Regions from separate parts of the Homo sapiens genome. Here regions 2, 3 and 4 are each reported to be linked to region 1. The links are microRNA targets in miRTarBase. Many come from high-throughput screens and were not tested one by one. Region 1 holds a microRNA gene; each other region holds the end of a gene's coding sequence.
Evidence for each region. Region 1 holds the annotated microRNA hsa-miR-939-3p (CCCUGGGCCUCUGCUCCCCAG, at 2,797-2,817, shown strand). A microRNA usually pairs through its seed, bases 2 to 8, with sites in the 3' UTR of a target mRNA and lowers its output. Matches are read on the target gene's strand: a 7mer-m8 pairs with bases 2 to 8, a 7mer-A1 pairs with bases 2 to 7 and ends in A, and an 8mer does both.

Region 2: miRTarBase lists ORC1 as a target of hsa-miR-939-3p. Seed matches in the 3' UTR shown: 7mer-m8 at 631-637.
Region 3: the mRNA of AS3MT is a reported target of hsa-miR-939-3p. Seed matches in the 3' UTR shown: 7mer-A1 at 3,804-3,810 and 7mer-m8 at 3,580-3,586.
Region 4: the mRNA of SSH3 is a reported target of hsa-miR-939-3p. The part of its 3' UTR that is shown has no 7-base or 8-base seed match.

The regions. Positions count from the first base shown.
Region 1 is chr8:144,391,730-144,396,977 of GRCh38, reverse strand. It overlaps MIR939 (microRNA 939), which reads left to right and starts at 2,748; the gene lies at 2,748-2,829. It overlaps ADCK5 (aarF domain containing kinase 5), which reads right to left. Exons shown (of 15, transcript NM_174922.5): 9 at 5,112-5,195; 10 at 4,956-5,037; 11 at 4,808-4,886; 12 at 4,633-4,724; 13 at 4,281-4,533; 14 at 4,086-4,202; 15 at 3,736-4,009. The coding sequence ends at 3,904. CPSF1 (cleavage and polyadenylation specific factor 1) reads left to right here. Exons shown (of 38, transcript NM_013291.3): 24 at 49-138; 25 at 237-380; 26 at 478-630; 27 at 1,427-1,543; 28 at 1,623-1,713; 29 at 1,796-1,880; 30 at 1,955-2,096; 31 at 2,182-2,334; 32 at 2,423-2,599; 33 at 2,678-2,744; 34 at 2,818-2,865; 35 at 2,940-3,095; 36 at 3,182-3,311; 37 at 3,388-3,526; 1 more. The coding sequence ends at 3,660. RefSeq lists silencers at 1,070-1,283, 2,636-2,797.
Region 2 is chr1:52,370,741-52,373,740 of GRCh38, reverse strand. ORC1 (origin recognition complex subunit 1) reads left to right here. Exons shown (of 17, transcript NM_004153.4): 17 at 366-912. The coding sequence ends at 560. Among named protein-coding and RNA genes, the nearest start is that of CC2D1B, 6.0 kb to the right of the region's middle.
Region 3 is chr10:102,899,287-102,904,818 of GRCh38, reverse strand. AS3MT (arsenite methyltransferase) reads right to left here. Exons shown (of 11, transcript NM_020682.4): 11 at 2,920-4,226. The coding sequence ends at 4,119. BORCS7-ASMT (BORCS7-ASMT readthrough (NMD candidate)) reads right to left here. Exons shown (of 15, transcript NR_037644.1): 15 at 2,920-4,226. LOC107984265 (a long non-coding RNA gene) reads left to right here. Exons shown (of 3, transcript NR_160733.1): 2 at 4,309-4,425; 3 at 5,347-5,532. Among named protein-coding and RNA genes, the nearest start is that of CNNM2, 16 kb to the left of the region's middle.
Region 4 is chr11:67,310,621-67,316,152 of GRCh38, forward strand. SSH3 (slingshot protein phosphatase 3) reads left to right here. Exons shown (of 14, transcript NM_017857.4): 14 at 971-1,972. The coding sequence ends at 1,267. Among named protein-coding and RNA genes, the nearest start is that of SSH3, 9.9 kb to the left of the region's middle.

The DNA.
Region 1 (5,248 bases):
TTCTCCATGGCCCTGCCCGTTCCCCCATGGCTCCCCTCATCCTGCCAGGTGCATGTGGACCAAGAGCTGCTTATCTACGAGGCCTTCCCCCACGACTCTCAGCTCGGCCAGGGCAATCTCAAAGTCCGCTTTAAGAAGGTGCCAGTGGCTGGACTGCTGGGGCGTGGGGTGGGTGTGGTACAAGGTGTGGGTTTCAGACCGGCAGCCCCTGGAGGACCTGCATGGTTCCCCCCCAGGTCCCTCACAACATCAACTTCCGTGAGAAGAAGCCAAAGCCATCCAAGAAGAAAGCAGAAGGTGGCGGCGCAGAGGAGGGGGCTGGGGCCCGGGGCCGCGTGGCGCGTTTCCGCTACTTCGAGGATATTTATGGCTACTCAGGGGTAGGCCAGCGCCTTTGCAGGGGTCTGTGGTAGAAGGGAGACGCGGCCTCATCCGCAGCATCCTCATCCACAGCATCCTCACGGTGCCTGCCCCCAGGTCTTCATCTGCGGCCCCTCCCCTCACTGGCTCTTGGTGACCGGCCGAGGGGCTCTGCGGCTACACCCCATGGCCATCGACGGCCCGGTCGACTCTTTCGCTCCATTCCACAATGTCAACTGTCCCCGCGGCTTCCTGTACTTCAACAGACAGGTGGGGCCCGGCCGGTTCCCAGCAGCACTGGCTGATGCTGCCCCAGCTGGGGGCTGAGGGGGAGGGGACAGGAGAAGGGACCATTGGCTCCACCCTGAGGACCAGGAAGGAGTGTCCAGAGGGCGATGGGGTTGAGGTCGAGGAGGTGGAACCTGTGACTTGGTTGCTCCAAAGGTCTGGAAAGGGGTGGTTGGGAGCTGGGGCTGCAGCCCCTGGGGTCCCCACCACTGCTCTGCCGGCTCGCCGGGCAAGCCCTCGCAGGGCCTGGCCTCCACACTTCTCAGGAGAGCTGACGTGAGTGCTAGCTCTGCCCCTTGGCTGCTCTGTGACTTTGGGAGGGCACACAGGCTTTCTCATCCTGGTTCCCTATTTAAGCCACCACACCACCAGGTCACTTGAGACCCTGCCTGGGATGCGGTGAGTGCTTCCTGGGTGCCTGAGGACTCAGGACTGTCCATGAAAGAGGGCAGCCCTGGCTCCCTCTGCCTGGTTTTCAGTCCCCAGCATGGCAGTCTGTGGGCTGCCCTTTGCAGCCTCCAGTGCCCTCCTGGCCTAGCTTTCCCATCCCCTGTGGCCAGCACCCCTAGCCCCAGCTGAGCGTGGGAAAATGGACAGGAGGAGCCCCAGAGGCTGAGTGGCAGCCCCTTCCAGGACCTCGCCAGGACACAGCTGCCCCTCACCCACCCCTGCTCCCACAGAGCTGAGGGCAACATCCCAGGGCTCTTGGCGGCCTGGGCCTGCCTGCCCCTGCCCTTGGCTAGCCCTGGATCCCCTGACCCCTGTGCCCCCACCCCAGGGCGAGCTGAGGATCAGTGTCCTGCCTGCCTACCTGTCCTATGATGCCCCATGGCCTGTCAGGAAGATCCCGCTGCGCTGCACGGCCCACTATGTGGCTTACCACGTGGAGTCTAAGGTCTGCCCCCACCCCCACCCCACCAGGGACCTTCTGGGCCTGGCCGGGCCACTGGTGTGTGACCCTCACTAACCCACAGGTGTATGCTGTGGCCACCAGCACCAACACGCCGTGTGCCCGCATCCCACGCATGACTGGCGAGGAGAAGGAGTTTGAGACCATCGAGAGAGGTGGTGACGCCCACACCATACTCCCATCCTCAGCCGCATCTTGGGGAAGCCCTACTCTGACTGTCACCCTTGGTCCCCACAGATGAGCGGTACATCCACCCCCAGCAGGAGGCCTTCTCCATCCAGCTCATCTCCCCGGTCAGCTGGGAGGCTATTCCCAATGCCAGGTGAGGCTGGGCCGGCGGGGGTGGGGTCTGCCCAAGGCCTCCAGGCAGCATCCTGAGGCCCCTGGCCCCCACAGGATCGAGCTGCAGGAGTGGGAGCATGTGACCTGCATGAAGACAGTGTCTCTGCGCAGTGAGGAGACCGTGTCGGGCCTCAAAGGCTACGTGGCCGCCGGGACCTGCCTCATGCAGGGGGAGGAGGTCACGTGCCGAGGGCGGGTAAGGGGCCAGTGAGCGGGGGCGGGAACTGGCAGCCCCTCTGCCATCCCCACAGCCATCCCACAGCCATACCCATGCCCTCCAGATCTTGATCATGGATGTGATTGAGGTGGTGCCCGAGCCTGGCCAGCCCTTGACCAAGAACAAGTTCAAAGTCCTTTACGAGAAGGAGCAGAAGGGGCCCGTGACCGCCCTGTGCCACTGCAATGGCCACCTGGTGTCGGCCATCGGCCAGAAGGTGTGCCAGTCCCACCCGGCGTGTGTCCCCCGGCTCACCCTCACCCGGCTCCCCGTCCGCGCCCGCTCACCCTCGCCCTCGCCCCCAGATTTTCCTGTGGAGCCTGCGGGCCAGCGAGCTGACGGGCATGGCCTTCATCGACACGCAGCTCTACATACACCAGATGATCAGCGTCAAGAACTTCATCCTGGCAGCCGACGTCATGAAGAGCATTTCGCTGCTGCGCTACCAGGAGGAAAGCAAGACGCTGAGCCTGGTGTCGCGGGTACACCTGTGGCGGCGGTGCTCGTGTCTGGGTGGGTACCCGCCCAAGGCACCTCTGACGCCCCCTTCCCGCCCCCAGGATGCCAAGCCCCTGGAGGTGTACAGCGTGGACTTCATGGTGGACAATGCCCAGCTGGGTTTTCTGGGTATGTGGGCAGGGCCCTGGGGAGCTGAGGCTCTGGGGGTGGCCGGGGCTGACCCTGGGCCTCTGCTCCCCAGTGTCTGACCGCGACCGCAACCTCATGGTGTACATGTACCTGCCCGAAGGTGAGTGCTTCCTCCACCCCCTCTGCCTGGGCCGGGGCTGGGCTAGCAGTGACCCCTAGGCCTTTCTGGTCTAGCCAAGGAGAGTTTCGGGGGCATGCGCCTGCTGCGTCGGGCAGACTTCCACGTGGGTGCCCACGTGAACACGTTCTGGAGGACCCCGTGCCGGGGGGCCACTGAAGGGCTCAGCAAAAAGTCGGTCGTGTGGGAGAATAAGCACATCACGTGGTTTGGTGAGTGTGGGGGAGCAGGTGTGTCTGGGTGGGGGGCCCTAGGGTTGGCCTGGCTCACACCAAAACCCTCACCCTACCCCTGCCAGCCACCCTGGACGGCGGCATCGGGCTGCTGCTGCCCATGCAGGAGAAGACCTACCGGCGGCTGCTGATGCTGCAGAACGCGCTGACCACCATGCTGCCACACCACGCCGGCCTCAACCCCCGCGCCTTCCGGTGAGCCCCGGCCCCGCCCCCGTGCAGCACCCCCTCCACCCCAGCCTGCCCTGACACCTGTGCCTGTACGCCCCAGGATGCTGCACGTGGACCGCCGCACCCTCCAGAATGCCGTGCGCAACGTGCTGGATGGGGAGCTGCTCAACCGCTACCTGTACCTGAGCACCATGGAGCGCAGCGAGCTAGCCAAGAAGATCGGCACCACACCAGACATAGTGAGTGCGCGCCCCGCCCCCCGCGCGCCCCGCCCCTCCGTGTGCATCCCCACCCACCCACCCACCCACCCTTCCATCCCCTGCAGATCCTGGACGACTTGCTGGAGACGGACCGCGTCACCGCCCACTTCTAGCCCCGTGGATGCCGTCACCACCAGCACACGGAACTACCTCCCACCCCCTTTTTGTACAAAACACAAGGAAAAACATTTTTTGCTTGAGAGGAGTGTGTGGTCATTACACGGCCTCCTGGCCCAGCTGCTGTCACAGCCCCCCAGTGCGAGTGCCCACGGGGCTCGGGGTGTCTACACCTCTAGCCCCGCCACCTCCGTCAGCCCAAGGTGAAAAGGGCCCCGCCGGCCCTGGGCGGCTGCACCCTAGGTCTCCAGGTACTGGTAGAGCTCCTCCGCTGGGGGCACGAGGCTCAGGTGGACCAGAGCACGAGCCAGGAGGGCGGTCAGCCGCATGGCCAAGGTCTCCAGCCTGCGTGGGTCAGGTCACAGGTCACAGGTGGGTGGGGAGCAGGCCCCCGCCACCCACCTGCCCCGCGGCCACTCACCTGAGCGCCACTTCAAACTTGAGCATCTCCCAGACGACCTTGGCGTGGCGCAGGAGGCTGGTGCCGTAGACACCCCGATACGTGGCGCCCGCCAGGCGGCTCCAGCCCCGGACAGCCCTGCACACACCCGCGTTAGCGCCGCGTCAGCCCCACACCAGCCCCACCACGGCCCGGGCGCCTCCTCGGGCCACCGACCTTTTAGCCATAAGGAAGTAGCGGTCCACGGGGGCGCCGAGGGCCACGTTGATAGCGCGCACGGTGTTGATGTTGCGCAGCACCAGCAGCATGGGCCGCGGCAGCTCCCTGAGCACCGCCATGACGGCCTCGAAGCGCTCGCGGGCCATGTCCACCATGTAGGCCGCCTCTTCGCGGCTCAGTAGGTGCGAGCCCCACAGCTGCCCCAGGCGCACGGGGCGCTGCATGAGCATCTCGGCGAACAGGAGGTAGTCTGGGGAGGGAGGGAGGGAGGGAGGGAGGGGGCTCTGAGTGGGTTCCGCGCCGCCCGACTCCCTTCTGTGGTGCCCCAGCCATCCCCGCACGCCCTCACCTTGCACCCCCAGTGCGGCTGCGTGCGCCCTCATGGCGGCGTCGTCCCGCAGGATGATGGCCCGCCACAGCTGGCAGAGGGCTGCGCGGTCCCTGGGTGTGGATGGGCCCGCAGCCATGAGCTCCCTGCGGCAGGAGAGGCTTGCCCTGCCCCACGCCCACCCACCCGCGCTCACTTCTCCTCCAGGAACTGGTAGAGCCCGTGGTCCAGCAGCACCAGCTCCGCTTTCCCGTCCGGGCCTTTCCGCACCAGAACTAGGGATACAGCCTCTTAGGTCGCGCTGCGCCCACCCTGAGACCCCCACCCCTGGGGTAAATTCCTACCGTTGCCAGGATGTGGGTCCGAGTGGATGAAGCCGGTGTAAAATATCTGCTCAGCAAAGGCCTTGATGAGCTTTTCTGCTATCTGGGGAGAGGAGAGGCATTGCAGTGGACACAGCACCAGCCCGCCCTGACCCGCCCCCGCCCCCCCGCACTCACGTCATGCACTGCCAGCCCCTGGCTCCTGATGGCCTCCACATCGTTGACCTTGCAGCCGGCGCAGAAGTCGGCAGTGAGCACGCGCTGGGGAGAGCAAGAGGCTGGGCTCAGCAGGCCCAGCGCTGTGCCCACCCCAA
Region 2 (3,000 bases), not on the chromosome of region 1:
GAGACAAGACTATTTGTATCACCAGTGAGAGTTACTAGTCATTTTATATCCATTAACTCACAAGGGATGTACAGTGTATTTTATAGATAAAATTGAAGCTCAAAAGAGTGCAGTAACTTGGCCAGGTCTACATATTTAGGTAAATGGTAGCACCAGGATTCGGGCCTGCTGTTTTCTGATTCCAAGGCTAGCATTCCATTCTGCCTCTGCATTTTGTGTACCACTGGGGCACCAACTGATGCCTTCTGGAGTGTTTGATATCCTGGGGGCCATGTGTCTGATTTTCCCAAATGAAGAAAGAAAGGAACAGAAAAAGCCCCAGGATTGTATTTCCTCTTAACCTTTGCCTTGCTATTTGTGTCTAGATATATAGTCAACATGTGGCACTGTGCAGAATGGAGGGACTGCCGTACCCCACCATGTCAGAGACCATGGCCGTGTGTTCTCACCTGGGCTCCTGTCGCCTCCTGCTTGTGGAGCCCAGCAGGAACGATCTGCTCCTTCGGGTGCGGCTCAACGTCAGCCAGGATGATGTGCTGTATGCGCTGAAAGACGAGTAAAGGGGCTTCACAAGTTAAAAGACTGGGGTCTTGCTGGGTTTTGTTTTTTGAGACAGGGTCTTGCTCTGTCGCCCAGGCTGGAGTGCAGTGGCACGATCATGGCTCACTGCAGCCTTGACTTCTCAGGCTTAGGTGACCCCCCAACCTCATCCTCCCAGGTGGCTGAAACTACAGGCACATGCCACCATGCCCAGCTGATTTTTTGTAGAGACAGGGCTTCACCATGTTGCCAAGCTAGTCTACAAAGCATCTGATTTTGGAAGTACATGGAATTGTTGTAACAAAGTATATTGAATGGAAATGGCTCTCATGTATTTTGGAATTTTCCATTAAATAATTTGCTTTTTCCTGAGTGTTTGTGAAGTTATTACATTATAATCATTACAAACATCTGATTATGAAACCAAACTGTCCTTCCTACAATAGTCCTTCCATGTGACTTTTATTTCTGTTACTAGGCCTGCCATTTATTTAATGCTAACATATATAAAATATAAGTACACGATTTACTTGTATCTATATAAAATAGTTCTGGGAGAGTATGCAAAAAACTGGTTACACTGATTACCTCTGGAAAGAATCAGATGGAAAGAATCAGATGGCCAGGGTTAGGGGTTAGAGGAGGACTTTTCACTGTATGTCATTATCTGTCTTAAGTTTCAAATAATATAAATAAAATTTAGGCCAGGGGCGGTGGCTCACACCTGTAATCCCAGCACTTTGGGAGGCCGAGGCAGGTGGATCAGGAGATCGAGACCATCCTGGCTAACACGGTGAAACCCTGTCTCTACTAAAAATACAAAAAAATTAGCCAGTTGTGGTGGCGGGCGCCTGTAGTCCAGCTACTCGGGAGGCTGAGGCAGGAGAGTGGCATGAACCCGGGAGGCGGAGCTTGCAGTGAGCTGAGATCGCGCCACTGCACTCCAGCCTGAGCGACAGAGTGAAACTCCGTCTCAAAAATAAATAAATAAATAAATAAATAAAATATAGTTTATAAAAAAGGAACTACTGGAAATAATATAAATCATAAGTAATCTCTAGCCACAAATAGCTAGAAAGTGTAATTTTTACAAAGGTACCATTTACCATAAAAACAAAACAAACCTTTAAATACAAAAGATTTATATGTCACAGAAAATATAAGGTACTTAGAAATAAATTGATTTAAATATTTATTTATTTATTTATTTTTTCCCTCTGTCACCAAGGCTGGAATGCAGTAATGGATCATAGCTCACTCCAGCCTTAACCTCCTGGGTTCAAGTAATCCTGCCTCAGCCTCCTAAGTAGCTGGGATTCCAGGTGTGGGCCACCATGTCCGTCTCCTAGGAATAAGTCTAATAAAGAGATGCAAGTAATCTCTAGATAGAAATCAATTCCAATCAAAATCTTGGCAAGGTTTCTTGTATGACTTTGCAGTTAATTCTAATATTTATATGGAAACCAACAACAGGCAATGAACATCTAAAACCTCATGAAGTACTGAGGCTGGGCGTGGGTGGCTCATGCCGGTAATCCCAACACTTTGGGAGGCCAAGGCGGGTGGATCACCTGAGGTCAGGAGTTCGAGACCAGCCTGATCAATATGGTGAAATCTCGTTTCTACTAAAAATGCAAAAATTAGTCTGGCGTGGTGGTGTCACCTGTAGTCCCAGCTACTTGGGAGTCAGGAGAATTGCTTGAACCCACCCAGGAGGCAGAGGTTGCAGTGAGCTGAGATCACACCATTGCACTCCAGCCTGGGCGACAGAGCAAGACTCCGTCTGAAAAAAATAAATAAAACCTAATATGAGGTACTGAAAAAAAACAGCCCCACCCGTGTACTAGTCCTGTCAGAAATGCTTGTCCTAAATTTACTGATGAGAAAATTATCAGACAAATCTAAATTTAGGGAGAAACTCTGCAAAGCAGCTGTTCAACTCATTGAAAATACTAATATCACAAGAAAAAAAACACAAAACATGGAGGAACTATTCTACACCAAAGGAGAATAGAGACATGAGAGCTAAATGCACTATATAAACCTTGACTGGGTCCTGGATTTAGGAAATATAAACAATTATAAACATTATTAACTATGTATTAGACAGAAGTATTTTGTAAGTGTTAAATTCCCCGAGCGTGATAAATTTGTGATTATGTAGGAGAATGCTGTTCTTAGGAGATTCATAATGAAATATTTATAAGTGATGTATTATGTCTGCAACTCATTCTCAAATCATTTAGCAAAAATATGTATTTCTATATTCACATATGTATTTATAATTACATATAATGGATTGAGGATCAATATCAATATTTTTAAAACTGCAATGAAAAAGAAAAAATGAGCCAGGCACAGTGGTTCATACCTGTAATCCCAGCATTTTGGGAGGCCAAGGCAGGTAGATCACCTGAGGTCAGGAATTCGAGACCAGCTCGGCCAACATGGTGAAGCCCC
Region 3 (5,532 bases), not on the chromosome of region 1:
TACACTCAGCAGTTTTTGTCCTCTTGGCCCATGGGGTTCATAATATTCCATTTTAGCAACCAGTGCCTAGGACAGTGCCTGGTACACAGGAGATAATACTATTTAGTGAATGAATGAAAGAAAGGATAGACAGTTCCCATACCTTGCCAGACTCATTTAATACAATTCCCATCTTAACATGGCAGAATGAGTGACTACCTCAGCTGCTTCCCTGGAGCCATCCAAGTAAAGGCCAAGAATAAATAGGAGGAGCAGGCTCTGGGGCTGTCTTGGCACAAAGCCATGCCCTTTTCAGCTATGCATGGCTGGATGTGGGGGTGGGGGCCTGTTGAGGCTACTGCTGGGCCTCCCTGAGTTGGTAAGCTGAAAAGTTTCTGCAGCCTTCCATGATTCTTTTTTTTTTTTTTTAATTTTTTTTTTTTAGGCTGGGCACAGTGGCTCACACCTGTAATCCCAGAACTTTGGGAGGCCAAGGCAGGTGGATCATGAGGTCAGGAGTTTGAGACCACCCTGGCTAACATGGTGAAACCTCGTCTCTACTAAAAATACAAAAATTAGCCAGGTGTGGTGGTGTGTGCCTGTAATCTCAGCTACTCGGGAGGCTGAGGCAGGAGAATCACTTGAACCTGGGAGGCGGAGGTTGCAGTGAGCCAAGATCATGCCACTGCACTCCAGCCTGAGCGACAGAGCAAGACTCCGTCTTGAAAAAAAATAAAAATAAAAAAATATAAAATTTTTATTTTTTAGAGATGGGGTCTTGCTAAGTTGCCCAGCCCAATCCCATTACTCAACATCTTTTTGGGGAACTGAGAGTTCAGAAGGACAAGTAAAAAGCTAATACCCTCTCCTTGTAAATGCCAAAAAGCCCAATAAACCAAATAAACAAAACACCCCCCCCCTTTTTTTTTTCTGAGACAGAGTCTCGCTCTGCCACCCAAGTTGGAGTGCAGTGGTGTGATCTCGGCTCACTGCAACCTCCACTTCCCAGGCTCACTGCAACCTCCACTTCCCAGGCTCAGCCGAGTCTTGTGCCTCAGCCACCTGAGTAGCTGAGATTATAGGCCTTGGCCACCATGCCTGTCTAATTTTTGTATTTTTAGTAGAGACAGAGTTTTGCCATGTTGGCCAGGCTGGTCTTGAACTCCTGGCCTCAAGTGATCCACTCGCCTCAGCCTCCCAAAGTACTGGGATTACAGGCATGAGCCACCACACCCAGCCAACAGAACACCCTTCAATCAATTCCCCCCAAGCAGGGCCATCTTGTGCTCATGAAGAGCAAAGTATGCTTATTCCAGCTGTACCATTGTAGCTAATGCTGTAATGTACCATTTTCACATTAAAGTAGGTTACGACTAGATAGATACGGCACCCTAGAACCAAGCAAGCATGTTTAAAATTAAGGTCATGGAGGTGAATAGGGCTTAAAAAAATACTACCTAGTTCTTTCCTCTGTCTGTAATAGTAAGTTAGGCTCTATAGCTGAACCTACTCAAAAATTTGAGAATTTCTCCATATTAAACAGCTTTCTTAAAACAGAAGTCTATCCTACGGAATCCATTCCAATGTTTTACATGCCTTAAAATTCTCAAACCCCTAGTCCGAAATCCCCTGGACCATGCCATGCCCCTGGTTGTTTTTGTACTGAGCCCAGGGCAACTGGTTGACATCTTATCAAAACCCTTGATTGGTTGAAGGCTATTTATTTATTTATTTGTATTTATTGTTTTTGAGACGGAGTCTCGCCCTATTACCCAGCCTGGAGTGCAGTGGCGCAATCTCGGGTCACTGGAACCTCCATCCCCTGGGTTCAAGCAATTCTCGTGCCTCAGCCTCGAGTAGCTGGGATTGCAGGCGTGCACCACCACACCCAGCTAATTTTTTGAATTTTTAGTAGCGATAGGGTTTCACCATGTTGTCCAGGCTGGTCTCGAACTCCTGAACTCAAGCAATACACCCACCTCGGCCACCCAAAGTGCTGGGATTACAGGTGTGAGCCACCGCGCCCAGCCTGAAGGCTGTTATTTAAAAACTGAATTATCCAGCTCCTGATGATAATGACCATCACTTATACCTTTCTGTGTCCTCCAATAAAGTCTTCAAGTACAGCTGGAATTCAAATTATTTACCATCCTTGAACCTTTCTTTAATGTTCTTAATATTCTTCTTTAACTATGGAAAAACTGAATCTATCATTTTGCTAAAAGTTTAACCAGGACACCTTATAAAGAAAAAGAAAACCTACCATTTTTACATCTCTTTCCTCCCTCCCCTCCCTTCCTCTCTCCTTCCCTTCCTCTCTCTCTCTCTTTCTTTCTTTGACAGGGTCTCACTCTGTCACTCAGGCTGGAGTGCAGTGGTGCGATCTTGGCTCACTACAACCTCCACCTCCCAGATTCAAGCAATTCTTGTGCCTCAACCTCTCGAGTAGCTGGGATTACATGCACATGCCACCACACCCGGCTGAGTTTTGAATTTTTAGTAGAGATGGGGGTCTCACCATGTTGGTCAGGCTGGTCTCGAACTCCTGACCTCAAGTGATCCACCCACCTTGACCTCCCAAGGTGCTGGGATTACAGGCGTGAGCCATCGCACCCAGCCTATTTATTTATTGTTTTTTAGAGACAGGGTCTTGCTCTGTCACCCAGCTGGAGTGCAGTGGTGCAATCATAGCTCACTGCAGCCTGGAACTCCTGGGCTCAAGCGATCCTCTTGCCTCAGCCTCTCCAGTAGCTGGGACTACAGGTACATACCACCATGCCTGGTCATTTTTACATCTTTTAGCTCTCTTTTTAAAAAACGATCGAACTCTATTCCTGACCCAGTTAGGATAATTTACAATAAATAATCACTATGTCATCAGTCATTAGGGTGAGATACTTATGATTCATTTGTTTTCTTGAGATACTTGATTCAAAGATGTTTATGATTAATTTGTTTTCTTTATTGCAAAAAAAAAGAAAAAAGAAAAAAACATTTGTTCAAAAGCTACCTCAAAAGTCCTCCTACCAAACATGATTTGGCAATCTTTTTGCATGATTAGTATGATGGCAGTAGGAGCTTTGTTTAATAAGCAAACATGATGAAAATTCCAAAAGGTGCTATGCAAAAGATCAGAAGGAAGATGTTTTTCCTGAGACCCTCTGCCAACTGTTACTTCTTCTGATGCCTTTCCTGCTTCTTGAACAAGGCTTAAGACAGCTTCTCTGTTCCATTTCTGACCACTATGTGGCACCAGAACTTTGAAGTAGGAAATAGAAAAAAAATCTGCTTAACTAGTGATTTGCTGTGAATCTTTAATCAATGCCTCTTAAAAATAATTCATTTATGGCCGGGCGCAGTGGCTCATGCTTGTAATCCCAGCACTTTGGGAGGCCGAGGCGGGCGGATCACGAGGTCAGGAGATCAAGACCATCCTGGCTAACATGGTGAAACCCCGTCTCTACTAAAAATACAAAAAATTAGCTGGGCATGGTGGTAGGTGCCTGTAGTCCCAGCTACTTGGGAGTCTGAGGCAGGAGAATGGCGTGAACCCAGGAGGTGGAGCTTGCAGTGAGTTGAGATGGGGCCACTGCACTTCAGCCTGGGCAACAGACCGAGACTCCATCTCAAAAAAATAAATAAATAAATAAAAATAATTCATTTATTTTTTTCAGTGATTTGGAATATGGTGGCTCTCTGCCATTTGTTGTTTTCTTTTTCTTTCTTTCTTTTTTTTTTTTTTTTTTTGCTTTTGAGACAGAGTCTTGCTCTGTTGCCCAGGCTGGAGTACAGTGGCGTGATGCTTACTCACTGCAGCCTCTACTTCCTGGGTTCAAGCAATTCTCCTGCCTCAGCCTCCCGAGTAGCTGAGACTATAGGTGTGCACCACCATGCCCAGCTAATTTTTTTTGTATTTTTGGTAGAGACAGGATTTCACCATGTTGGCCAGGCTGGTATCAAACTCCTGACCTCAGGTGATCTGCCTGCCTCGGCCTCCCAAAGTGCTGGGATTATAGGCATGAGCCACTGTGCCCGGCCCCATTTGTTGTTTCTTATGGTCTGTGCTATGGGGAAAAGCAGGTTAAAAAACATGCAGATCACTCTTGCCCACTACTGTGGTCCCCTGGTTGGCTATAGATTTAGCAGCTTTTCTTTGTGCCACAGCAGCCTCCAGCAGCATCAGGGACACATCTGGACTTCATACTGTCAGACTCTTCTGCAAGCTTAAATGGATCTGTGATTATATCCTGTCAAAAGGCAAACCAAAATGAAAGGACAAGTTAAAGGTGTTTTGATGTACCCAAACACTAATATTTCTGTTTGATTTAGGTTGACTTACACAGAACAGAGATAAAATTTTACAATTCCATGAGATCCTGGGAGTAACATCAGTCATTCTGCCATAAAGGCACTTGCTTCCTGAAGCTTCTAATTACAACTTTCAAGGTAAACTTCACTTAAAGCTTCTTAAAGATGGTCCCTCTTGGGCAGAGCATTGATTTTTGCTCAGTTGATTTTGTTTTGTGGGGTTGTCATTTGCACGTGCCTTTTAAACCTCTTTGGAACTGAGATACGGAAATGCTAAAACGACTTCTCTTCCCTTATTCTAATCTCCAGAAACATTTATACCAAACAGGAAAGTGAGTCCCAGATGTAGGGCTGTCACTAGCAATTGCTGATGCTCAGATGAAATTGCCAACAATGGCCAGACAGATCTCAGAGTAGAGTAACATAAGACTGCTGTATTTATTTAAAAGACAAGACTGCTGTATTTATTTCCCCTCCTTTCACCTCCAAATGAGATACCTCTAACAATAGTACCAGTGGGGCCAGAGAAAAGCCAAGTACAAAGATAGGAAATCAAGAGCACAGGGTCTGGGCACGGTGGCTCACGCCTGTAATCCCAGCACTTTGAGAGGCCGAGGCCAATGGATCACCTGAGGCCAGGAGTTTGAGACAAGCCTGGGCAATATGGCAAAATCCCATCTCTACTAAAAATACAAAAAATTAGCTGGGTGTGGTGGCACGTCTGTAGTCTCAGCTACTCGGGAGGCTGAGGCAAGAGAATCACTTGAACCTAGGAGGTGGAGGTTGCAGTGAGCTGAGATCACACCACTGCACTCCAACCTGGGTGACAGAGCGAGACTCCATCTCAAAAAAAAAAAAAAAAGCATGAACATGCCACTTTAAATAATGGTAATGAATTCATTATAACATAAATTTACAGTCCTACTACTTATTCTGGTCACTGCAAATAGAGGGGTGTACAAGGCAGGCACAGACTCTACATTCATGAAACTGATAGACTGGTGGACCCTTTACTAAAGTGACTGACTTCCTGCTGGCCTTGGTCTCTCTGTCCCTCAGTGTCTACCTTTCTGAAATGAAGAGGTCTGCCTGCATCTGGTAAGATGAGCATCTGGCAGAGGATCTCCAAGCCTGGAAGAAGGCCAGCTCTGCTGGTTGCTACTGCTAGGACTTCACATCAATTGCATTTCCATCTCTCAGTATACTGGAACTCCTGCTTGAAAGGGTTTGCCCTGGCCTGGTGCG
Region 4 (5,532 bases), not on the chromosome of region 1:
GATCCAGTGAGGGCAGGCGGAGGCACTGTAGGCACAGGCTGGAGAGGGGTCACGGGGGCAGGGCAGGAAGCAGTGCCTGTTTCCAAGGCTCCTGGGTGAGCCAGCCCCAGCCTCGATCGCGGGCAGGTTCCAGCCTGACCACAGGACTAGCTGTCTCAGGGGCAGGGCTGCCTCCCCAGGCCATGAGCTCCACAGGCCCCTGCAGGCCCTGGGGGCGATCTCTAACCCCATGGTGGGGAGGCTAAATTAATCTCTGAAGCCCCTCCCTGGTCTGAGGAGCAGCACCTCAAAGGATGGGGTGGGGAGGAGTCTGCGCACTCACGCCGCCCAAGTCCTGCCTAAGTCAGCACCCTTGATGCTCAGTGCTGCGGGCACAAGCCTAAGCCTGGGAGCCAGGCCCTGTCTGGGACTCAAGGCCAAATGGCTGACTTGGAGGAAGGAGCATCCACTGAGGGCAGGAACATTTGGGAGAGGCTTCCTGGAGGAGGTGTGGGTGGGGAAGGATAGGGAGGCGTGGTGGGTTGATGGGCGGGTGTGGGCGTTGCTAAAGGCAAGAGGTCCTCACCCAGCACCGGACGCACGCATCCACCCAGCCCAGCTCAGGGGCTGGTGCCGGCACGGGTTTCACCTGCCGGCTGCCTACGCAAAGGCAGAGAAAGCATAGGAGGGGAGGAGGGCAGGGAGGCCTGGGTCTCCAGGGAGCTGAGGAGGGCTTCTGGGGGCCAGAAGGAAGCTACAAGCAGGTAGGGTTCAAGGAGCGGGGCAGCAGGGCTGGGGTGTTGTCCTCCCTCCCGAGGAAGCGTGGCTGTGGACAGCTTGGCTTTTGGCGTGCGTGCCACAAACATTCCGGCCCTCGCCTCCTCCTGGCTCTGTGCTTGGCACCCCTGCCCCAGATCTTCCCGGCTCTGTGCTTGGGCACCCCTGCCCCAGAAAGGCCTCCCATGGCTTCCGTATCCTCACACCTGTCCAGGTCTTCTCTTCCCACGAGTCTTCACATGAAGAGCCTCTGCAGCCCTTCCCACAGCTTGCAAGGACCAAGGGAGGCCAGCAGGTGGACAGGGGGCCTCAGCCTGCCCTGAAGTCCCGCCAGTCAGTGGTTACCCTCCAGGGCAGTGCCGTGGTGGCCAACCGGACCCAGGCCTTCCAGGAGCAGGAGCAGGGGCAGGGGCAGGGGCAGGGAGAGCCCTGCATTTCCTCTACGCCCAGGTTCCGGAAGGTGGTGAGACAGGCCAGCGTGCATGACAGTGGAGAGGAGGGCGAGGCCTGAGCCCTCACACATGCCCACGCTCCCCTGACACTGAAGAGGATCCACAACTCCTTGGAGAAACACCCTCACGTCTGTTGCCGCACACATTCCTCTCAGCTCCGCCCCATACCCGTCACTACAGCCTCACCTCCCACCCCTGTCACTACGGCCTCACCTCCCACCCCTGTCACTACAGCCTCACCTCCTACAGCCTTAAGTCCCAGGCCCATGTCTGCCTGTCCAAGGGCTCAAGACTTTCTAACTGGGATGTGGTAGAGGGACTGAAGGTACCTTTGGGGGCAACAGCACCCTAGTTTCATTCTCAACTCTAGCCCTGCACACTCACCTGTGGCACGGAATGAAAACAGAGCTTCCCGTGCAAAAAGGGTCACGCCTCCCACCCCCGCCCCCTCCCTGCACCTCCTGTCCTCTCCCAGTTCATTCCTGGAACCAGCCAGGCCAGGCAACCAGTGGCCCCCAAAGGCAGGCAGGATCCTCAGGCCCCAGCCGCGGGAGGCTGGAAGGGCTGGCAGATCGCTTCCCTCATCCACCTCCACCGGTCCAGGTCTTTGCTGCTGTCCCCAGACCTCCTGTGACACCACGCCAGATCACAGGGCACCAGGCCAGAGATAGTCTTCTTTTTGTCCTTTCTGGCCTCTGGCTAGTCAGTTTTTCATAGCCTTACAGTATCTGGCTTTGTACTGAGAAATAAAACACATTTTCATATTTGGTTATTTTCAATGTGACGATGAAGCCATCTGTGTTGCAGTCAGACCCTTCTCTGCTGGCTGGGGAAGGTGGCCGCCCCTTCCTCCCAGCAGTCTCCTCACAATTCCAAGGTGGCTCGTGACAGACCTATTTGGGGGAGTGCCGTGTTTGGGCGTGGCGTGGGAGGAAGATTGGGTAAGAGAAGAGAGGAAGTCAGTGCTATCTCCCCATCTCCTGGGGCAGGGCCTGGTAAATATGACCTGCTCACACCCACCCGCTCAGACAGGTCGGGCAAGGGAAGAAGTCGTCAGCGGGCAGCAGGCATGTGGCTCCACTGTGAGAGCTGGAAGGGGTTACTCATGAGGAAGTGCCTACCTGGACAGGACCAAGCCTGTTCCAAAAGCGAAGCCTCCTTGGGACACTCGGCGCCAGGTTCTCTGGCATGTTTTGGGTCCCAAGAATCACCTTCCTCCTGCTACAAAGCAAAGGGCCTGACTTTCCAAGCCAGGCTATTGCGGCCTGGGAAGAAGGACCCTTGGTGACACTTCCCCTCCTGCCCAGGGGTTCCTTCTGCTCAACTTTAGTGTCCAAGAAGAGTTAGTCATTCCATCTTTTTTTTTCTTTTTTTGAGACAGAGTCTGGTTCTGTTGCCCAGGCTGGAGTGCAGCGGCACGATCATGCCTCAGTGCAGCCTTGAATTCCCAGGCTGAAGAGACCCTCTCACTTCAGCCTCCTGAGTAGCTGGGACCACAGGCACACCTAGCTAAGTGGTTGTATCTTTGTCACTTCCTTTTTTTTTTTGAGACAGGGTCTTGCTCTGTCACCCAGAATAGAGTGCAGTGATATGATCTTGGCTTTCTACAGCCTCAACCTCCCGGGCTCAAGGGATCCTCCTGCCTCAGCCCCTGAGTAGTTGGGACTACCTACATGTGCCATCATGCCTAGCTAATTTTTATCTTTTATTTTTTGTGGAGACGGGGTTTTACCATGTTGCCCAGGCTGGTCTCGAACTCCTGGGCTCAAGCGATCTGCATATCTCGACCTCTCAAAGTGTTGGGATTACAGGCGTGAGCCACTGCGCCTGGCCCATCTTTGTCACTTCTATCCCTCTTCCCAAGATTATGTATGCTCTCTGCTCTATGATACATTACCCTGGTTTGGGGAAGGGGCCGGATTCAACTCCTTCCCTCAAAGCAGTCCTTAGAGATGGGAGCTGGCACCAAGCATTCTCAGTGACTGAGACTTCACGCCCAGTTTTAAGAATGAATCTCTCACCCAGGCCCTGGTGGGACTCCTAGCACTGCTCTAACCCTGAAGTGCGCAGTGGCAGGAGACTTGGATTTAGCCCCAGCTTCACCACTTATGAATTACTTTGCTTTGAGTCTCTGTTTCTTTCTGTAAAATAAAGGGATTAGACCTGGAAATCCCCAAGTACCCCTCTTCACTTTGATGCATTTTATATTATTTATTATTTATTTATTATTGAGTACAGTGGGGTGATCTCAGCTCACTGCAACCTCTGCCTCCCAGGCTCAAGACATCCTGCCTCAGCCTCCTGAGTAGCTGGGACTACAGGGCCACCACGCCTGGCTACACTTTGATACATTTTAACAATACATGCTATCTAGACATTGCTAGATTAGCCTCTACCTCCCTTCCAGAAGAGGAATCCTTGGCACCTATCTGGGTGGTATGCCTAAGGGTCACAAGATGTGGGGTACATGCAAGCTAGTTCTGATTCTTGATCCATCCTGCTGAGCAAACACTGGGGGCTACCCCCCACTCTGTGGCCAACTAGGAGTCCTACCCAGGCTGCCCTTTCAGTATTCCTGGCCTAGGGCTGCAGATGGGTGGGGTGGTGGTGAGAGTGTCGGGGTAAGCCAAGGCCAGGCCCTGCCCCTCCTGCAGCCTGTGCATCTCAGAAGGCAGGTCCAATCAGGAACTCAGAGCTGTGGGGCTCACTAGAATCCACTAGAATCCAGGAGGATTCTAAGAAGTAAGAAGTCAGCAAACAGGGAAATGAAGACTGGAGGGGAAACCGCATCAAAAATACAGACAAGAGGGTGCCGGGTGTGGTGGCTCATGCCTGTAATCCCAGCACTTTGGGAGGCTGAGGCAGGCGGATTGCTTGAGCCCAGGAGTTCGAGACCAGCCTGAGCAACATGGTGAAACCCCATCTCTACAAAACAAAACAAAACTACAAACAATTAGGAACCCTATTGGCTGGGTGCAGTGGCTCACGCCTGTAGTTCCAATACTTTGGGAGGCTAAGGTGGTTGGATCACCTGAGGTCAGGAGTTCGAGACCAGCCTGGCCAATGTGGCAAAACACTGTCTCTACTAAAAATACAAAAATTAGCTGGGTGTGGTGGCGTGCACTTGTAATCCCAGCTATTTGGGAGCCTGAGGCAGGAGAATTGCTCGAACCTGGGAGGCTGAGGTCGCAATGAGCCAAGATTGCGCCATTGCACTCCAGCTTGGGTGACAGAGTGAGACTCCGTCTCCAAAAAAAAATAAAAATAAAAAAAACCCTATGTATACACAAAGCTCACCCAAATTGCTAAAGGGGCAAAAAATAATAAGAAGGATATAAAATGAAAAGTAAATCTCACTCCTACTCTGTCCTCTAGTCCTTCACATCTACTCAGGCAATGACTTGTTACCAGCTGCCTTTGATGCCCTCCAGGTACCCCATGCTTATGTAATCAAATATATTGGTATGTGTATTTTTTAAAAATACAGACAATAGCATGTTAACATACTATTCTACACTTTGAAAATTGGTTCATATCAGAGTTCCACATCGGTACCGTGGTGTTATATATACATTGGTTTTCATCCAGGCTCCTGGCTCATAACCCTCATAGCCCTTGTTCAGTCTTTTGTTCTAATGTTGAGTGTGTCAGGCCTCAGGAGCAGGCCGCAGGAAACAACCTCTTGACATTCTGCCCTCCTCTCCCTTGCCCCAAGGCAGGGCTCTACTGTTCACCCTCACTTTCAGATTGTGGGTTATAAGACCCTCCCCAGAGAGACCCTCCTCCTCACTCTATACCCTGGTGTAAGGAATGCTGATGTCATGAAGCTTCCATTAAAAACCCAAGAGGACTGGCTTCTTGGAGCTCTGGGTAGCTGACCATGTGCAGGTTCCTCCCCGGTGGTGCACCTAGGGAGGGTGTGCACACTCCGCACCCTCCCCCGTGCACATCTTTTCACCTTTATCCTTTGTAGTATCCTTTATAATAAGCCACTAAACGTAAGTGTTTCTTTGAGTTCTGTGAGCTGCTCCAGCAAATTAATCAAACCGAAAGAGGGGATCGTGGGAACCCCAACTTGAAGCTGGTCAGGCAGAAGTTCTGGAGGCCTGGACTTTTGACTGGGATCTGAGGGGAGGGAGATGCAGTCTTGGGGGCTGAGCCTCAACCTGTGCGATCCGACACTATCTCCCGGTAGACAGAGTTGGAATTGAATTGGAGGCCACCCAGCTGGTCTGTTGCTTGGTGTGTGGGGAGAAAAACCCCACACCTTTTTTTTTTTTTTTTGAGATGGATTCTCACTCTTGTCCACCCAGGCTAGAGTGCA